Linked DNA regions of Homo sapiens: region 1 is linked to region 2. Evidence: fine-mapped expression QTL. A gene starts in region 2. The other region holds a variant in brackets. All regions are shown on one strand. Distances are from middle to middle. Region 1 overlaps MTA3 (metastasis associated 1 family member 3). Region 2 holds the start of MTA3 (metastasis associated 1 family member 3).

Evidence for each region. PIP is the estimated chance that this variant, and not a neighbour inherited with it, causes the effect. A credible set is the group of variants that fine-mapping cannot tell apart.
Region 1: its variant is the best candidate, but not a certain one, in a credible set for the expression of MTA3 in whole blood (TOPMed, PIP 0.63).

The regions. Positions count from the first base shown.
Region 1 is chr2:42,606,016-42,608,919 of GRCh38, reverse strand. The region is part of intron 3 of MTA3 (metastasis associated 1 family member 3); the gene reads right to left. The region is part of intron 2 of LOC105374555 (a long non-coding RNA gene); the gene reads left to right. Among named protein-coding and RNA genes, the nearest start is that of MTA3, 39 kb to the right of the region's middle. RefSeq lists an enhancer at 2,060-2,811. The variant T/C (reference allele first, on the strand shown) is at 1,314.
Region 2 is chr2:42,567,203-42,570,106 of GRCh38, reverse strand. MTA3 (metastasis associated 1 family member 3) reads right to left here and starts at 1,475. Exons shown (of 17, transcript NM_001330442.2): 1 at 1,334-1,475. The coding sequence starts at 1,361. RefSeq lists silencers at 1,118-1,197, 1,258-1,417, 1,688-1,737, 1,798-1,847 and an enhancer at 2,088-2,227.

The sequences.
Region 1 (2,904 bases), 39 kb before region 2:
TACATATCAATTTAAAAATTAATTCACTTTTTTTTCGGAGATAGAGTTTGCTCTGTCGCCCAGGCTGGAGTGCAGTGGTGTAATCTCAGCTCACTGCAAACACCACCACCTAGGTTCAAGCAATTCTTGTGCCTTAGCCTCCAGAGTAGCTGTGATTACAGGCGTACATCACCACACCTGGCTAACTTTATGTATTTTTAGTAGAGACAGCGTTACACCATGTTGCCCAGGCTGGTCTCGAACTCCTGGGCTCAAGTGATCTGCCTGCTTTGGCCTCCCAAAGTGCTGGGATTACAGGCATGAGCCACCACACCCAACCTCACAGAAGGGATTTTATCAAATATAATGCTCTTGTTGAAGTAGTTCTTTATGAATAGCATGAGGGTAATGAATGGAGTAAGTATCAGATCTTTTCTACTTTCAAACTTTTAAAACTGAATTGAAAATGAACCTTAAACAGTAACTTAGAAAAAGATGCACCTAGCTCAAAGCAAGAATAAAGCAATTTAAAATTCTTTGGATATTCTTTTTAATGAACTACTCAAAGAGAAATATAGCACTAAAAGGGCCATTTACTTGCAGGTCTAATAACATTTCACCAGTGAAGATTGATAAAGTTGCTGCTGCATTGGCACTATTAGCACTAGAAAATATCACATACAAAATTACACTCTTTACCTAATTAGGATTTGACAAATTGTTGTTGTATAAGACACAGCTAACTGAATTCTAATGCATACCCTACAGAGCTAAAACAGCAACCAGCTCTACAACAGCAACAGTAAATCTTACGTTCTTATACGATCCCTTGGTTCACCATAAAAAGGACCAAAATCACTGAAATCCAACCTAACCAAAGACAAAAATCACAACGGCATCTCTCATGATGCAGATCACTAATGAAAACCACTTTTTAAAATTTACCAGTTAAATTTCAAATTTCATTTATGTATTTGTATAACTTTTTTTTAGACGGAGTCTCGCTCTGTCACCCAGGCTAGAGTGCAGTAGCACAATCTCGGCTCACTGCAACCTCCATCTCCCGGGTTCAAGTGATTCTCCTGCCTCAGCCTCCTGAGTAGCTGGGATTACAGGCGTGTGCCACCACACCTGGCTAATTTTTGTATTTTTAGTAGAGACAGGGTTTCATCATGTTGCCCAGGCTGATCTCGAACTCCTGAGCTCAAGCAATCTGTCCACCTCGGTGTGAGATAAATCAATTATTAGAGTGGATGAAGAGTAAAGAGAATTCAAAAGATAAATTTAAAGTTAGACAGGCCAGGTGTGATGGCTCATGCCTGCAATTCCAGCAC[T/C]TTGGGAGGCTGAGGCAAGCAGATCGCTTGAGCCCAGGAGTTCAAGACCAAACATCTCTACAAAAAATACAAAAATTAGCCAAGCCCATGGTCCCAGCTACTCAGAGACTGATGTAGGAGGATCGCTTGAGCCCAGGAGGTGGAAGGTGCTGTGAGCTGAGATCGCACCACTGCACTCCAGCCTGGGCGATACAGCAAGACCCTATGTCGAAATAAATAAATAAATAAAGTTGAACAATGCCTCTGAGCCAGAGTCTGATCCATGAGACTCTCACCAATCTCCAGCGGGAGACTCCTCTTTGCTACAAAGCAGCACCCACATACGCTTAAGGTACTTCACAGTATGCTTTGCTCTACTCTACAGTTAACTGATTTCACTGCATCCCTTGAGAACAATGACAGGTCACTTATCTTTGTATCCACCCTATTTTACTTGCGGGGTAAAAGTGAACCTCAAGAAACATTCAGAGCTCTACCCTCTACCTCTACCTACCTCTACCTCTACCTCTACCCCTACCCCTACCCCTACCCCTACCCCTACCTCTACCTCCGGTCTCCCTCTCATGCGGAGCCGAAGCTGGACTGTACTGCTGCCATCTCGGCTCACTGCAACCTCCCTGCCTGATTCTCCTGCCTCAGTCTGCCGAATGCCTGCGATTGCAGGCACGCGCCGCCACGCCTGACTGGTTTTGGTGGAGACGGGGTTTCGCTGTGTTGGCCAGGCCGGTCTCCAGCCCCTAACCGCGAGTGATCCGCCAACCTCGGCCTCCCGAGGTGCCGGGATTGCAGACGGAGTCTCGTTCACTCAGTGCTCAATGGTGCCCAGGCTGGGGTGCAGTGGCGTGATCTCGGCTCACTACAACCTACACCTCCCAGCCGCCTGCCTTGGCCTCCCAAAGTGCCGAGATTGCAGCCTCTGCCCAGCCGCCACCCCGTCTGGGAAGTGAGGAGTGTCTCTGCCTGGCCGCCCATCGTCTGGGATGTGAGGAGCCCCTCTGCCTGGCTGCCCAGTCTGGAAAGTGAGGAGCGTCTCCGCCCGGCCGCCATCCCATCTAGGAAGTGAGGAGCGCCTCTTCCCAGCCGCCATCACATCTAGGAAGTGAGGGGCGTCTCTGCCCGGCCGCACATCATCTGGGATGTGAGGAGATCGTCTGAGATGTGGGGAGCGCCTCTGCCCCGCCGCCCCGTCTGGGAGGTGAGGAGCGTCTCTGCCCGGCCGCCCCGTCTGAGAAGTGAGGAGCCCCTCCGCCCGGCAGCTGCCCCGTCTGAGAGGTGAGGAGCCTCTCCGCCCGGCAGCCACCCGATCTGGGAAGTGAGGAGCGTCTCCGCCCGGCAGCCACCCCATCTGGGAAGTGAGGAGAGTCTCCGCCCGGCAGCCACCCCGTCCGGGAGGGAGGTGGGGGGGGGTCAGCCCCCCGCCCGGCCAGCCGCCCCGTCCGGGAGGTGAGGGGCGCCTCTGCCCGGCCGCCCCTACTGGGAAGTGAGGAGCCCCTCAGCCCGGCCAGCCACCCCGTCCGGGAGGGAGAGGGGGGGTCAGCCCCCCCACCCGGCCAGCCGCCCCGTCCGGGAGGGAGGTGGGGGGGTCAGCCCC
Region 2 (2,904 bases):
ATAACTACTTCCACATCTTTTTCCTCCAATACAATTTGCCCTGCAGGCTGCTTCTCACATAAAACTATTGACCTAAGACACATTCAGAGCAGGGAGAAAGGCTTCACAGTCCAACCTACATTTCAATCACTACTTAAAAAAAAAAAAAAAAATCAGATGAGCAGAACAGGTTAAGAGGAAGAACGCTGACAAACTTTTCCACAGTTTTACCTGGGAAGATGAGGAAAAAAGGGGGCCGGGGGATCACTTCTAAGAGGCAAAGTGTTCTGGGGGTGATATCAGCATCTTTTTTACCCTTTTACCATATTTAATCCAGATCCATTTAATGTCTTGTGATTAAGAAATTGCTGCAGGCTTTCAACTAAAAGGATAAAATTTTTCAAGTGTGGCTTTTCCTCTCATCTAATAGGCTTGCTGGAAACTTCCCACTGTGTGTTTATCCGAAAGGCAGCTGCATTGTTATTGTCTATCTTAGTGGCTCTTTCGCCGCTCTCTTCTGCAAAGTGGCCTCATTTAGCCAGGCCATTCCCACCACCATCCATCAGAAGCTCGGCTAATGAGCAGAGAAGGAAGAGCCAGTCTCTCATACAAACACGCCACTTATCTGAATTATTATTTTACCAGGAAAGAGGGAGGAGGGCGTCGTGAGTAGGGAGAAAGTTTGTTTGACCTTATTTCTCTCTTCCGCAGAAGACTGGGAAGGAGGCAGGCAGCAGAGCAAACGTCCAGGCAGAGCTCAACTCCCCACCTCCGGCTGAGGTTCCCAGCTCCCACGAAGCCCCATTCGTGGGGGACTGGACCAGAAACGAAAAGGAGGGGGGCCGAGGAAGGGGAGGTGCAGGGCCCCGGCACGCAAACAGGCCCGTCCAGCTGGGCCCCTGGCTGGGCCCCCACCGCCCCCACCCCCACCCCCACCCCAGGCTCCCACTGAGTGGGGAAGAAGCAGGAGAGGGGATGTCCCCTCATCCTCTCCAGCGCCTAGAAGCCACGCAAGAAGGCCACCTTCTCAGGGGGCTCGACGGGCCCTACCCCGATGAGGGTTTCGTGGAGGGGGGTGTCTGGTAATTCGTACCCCCAAGTAGAGGCCTGGCCCTAAACACTGGGCGGGGTGCGAGGGTGAAGGTGGCCCCGGGCCCTCGCGAGCCCGCGTGGGGGGAGGGGAAGGGATGGGTGGGGGTGGGGAGTCCCGGCCCCTCTGCGGGCCCCGGCGCCCCAGCCCACTGCGACCTCAGCCCCGGCGCCCTTGGCTCCCGGCAGTTGGCGTGCACTCGCCCCGGCCCCCCGCTCCCGGAACCCGCTCCCACACGGGCCGGGTCGGGCCGAGCCTGCCTACCTCCGACCCGGTACATGTTGGCCGCCATGTCCGCCCGCCCGCCCGCGGAGCCCGAGCCGAGCCCCGCCCGCCGCCGCCGCCTCCTCCTCAGCCTCAGCCGCGACCGCCGCTGCCGCCGCCGCCGTCGCTGCTGCCTCGCCACGGGGGGGAAGGGAGGGAAGGGAGGGGACAGGGGGTGGGGGAAGTAAAGGGGATGGTACGCCGAGGGGTGGGGGCTGGTGCCCGCCCCCAGCGCCAGGCTAGCAAGGCCGAGTGGGCCGGGCCGGGGGAGGCCCGGGGAGGCTGGAGCGCTGCGGGGCCAGCGGGAATTGGGGGGGAGGGGGAGGGGAAAGGGAGTGGGAGTGGGAGGGAGGGTGGGGGGCCTTGCTGGAAGTGGAGGGCCCTGGGGTCAGGGTCCTGGCTGAGGCAGAGGCCTGCACTCAAATGCGGACCAGGGGCTGTTAGAGAATTAGAGTGGGGGCTGGGGCTTAGCCTCTCCCCAGCACCTCTTCCCCCACCCAGGGTACCCCGTCACCTGTCCACCCCAAGACAGGTCCTCCTTCCCTACCTCTGTCCCTGGGGAACCCCCCTGTGGCTGCCCTAGTAGGCAAGCGCCAGTCTCAATGCAAACTCTTGGATGCAAATAAGTGCAGGCAGCAGGGTGCCTTCCTCGCGGTGAGATTCAAGGGGCCGGCCTGGAGCCTGCAGGCTCTAGGGCCAGGAAGATTCCGGGTGCTTCCCGCCTCGCCAGAGACCCAGCTGGGGACAGAGGTAGAAAAACTCCCTTCCTAGGCCACCCTAACTGCGTCATCGTTTACCCCAAAACTGGGCTGAGCAGAACCAACTGTCCAACACCCAGATGGAGGCCCTGGCTCTAGACGGGCACTGTATATGCAGGGCCTGTTCTGCTGGGAAAAGGGACCTTTAGGAGTGAGGGGCTTCCTTTGTCCATGGGGGAACAGGGCCCTACAGTTCACAATCACCACCACCCCCAAACAGAGGAGATTGTATTCAATCAGTTTCATGTCGATGGACACTTAACTGGTTACGTGCCTAAAGCTTCTAAATGGTTATTGTCCCAGGCCAATTCTCTAAACAACCTCTGTTTTCACGGCCTTCCTACTCTCACAGATACAAAAAAAAAAAAACAACGTTGAATCTTAGCTGGCGATCCCCCAAATGAACACAAATAACTTTCTTTAGAGAAGCCAGTCCATTCCAAAGTACTCCCAGACATTGCTGCATAATAAACACGAAGAAGATTTCTTGGTGTGGTGGCTTGTTTGGAATGTGTGGTGATACACAGCTGTGTGCTGTCGACTCTGGGTTTAAGGTCTGTGCGGGGCTAAGAGGTGCCCCCAGAAAAGAAGGTTGTGTTTTGGTGGTTTGGTGATGACATTTGTGATGGTCACTTATCACAAAGTATTGAGATGAAAAAACTGTGCATAGCTGAGGCAAAATATAAAAATAAAAAATAAAGCACTATTGAATTACATTGACTCTATGACCTGTTTCCTCGTCTATAAAATGGGGACGTGAGTTCCCCCTTCACAGGTGTGGTAAGGATCAGTTGCGATGATATCTGAAAATGC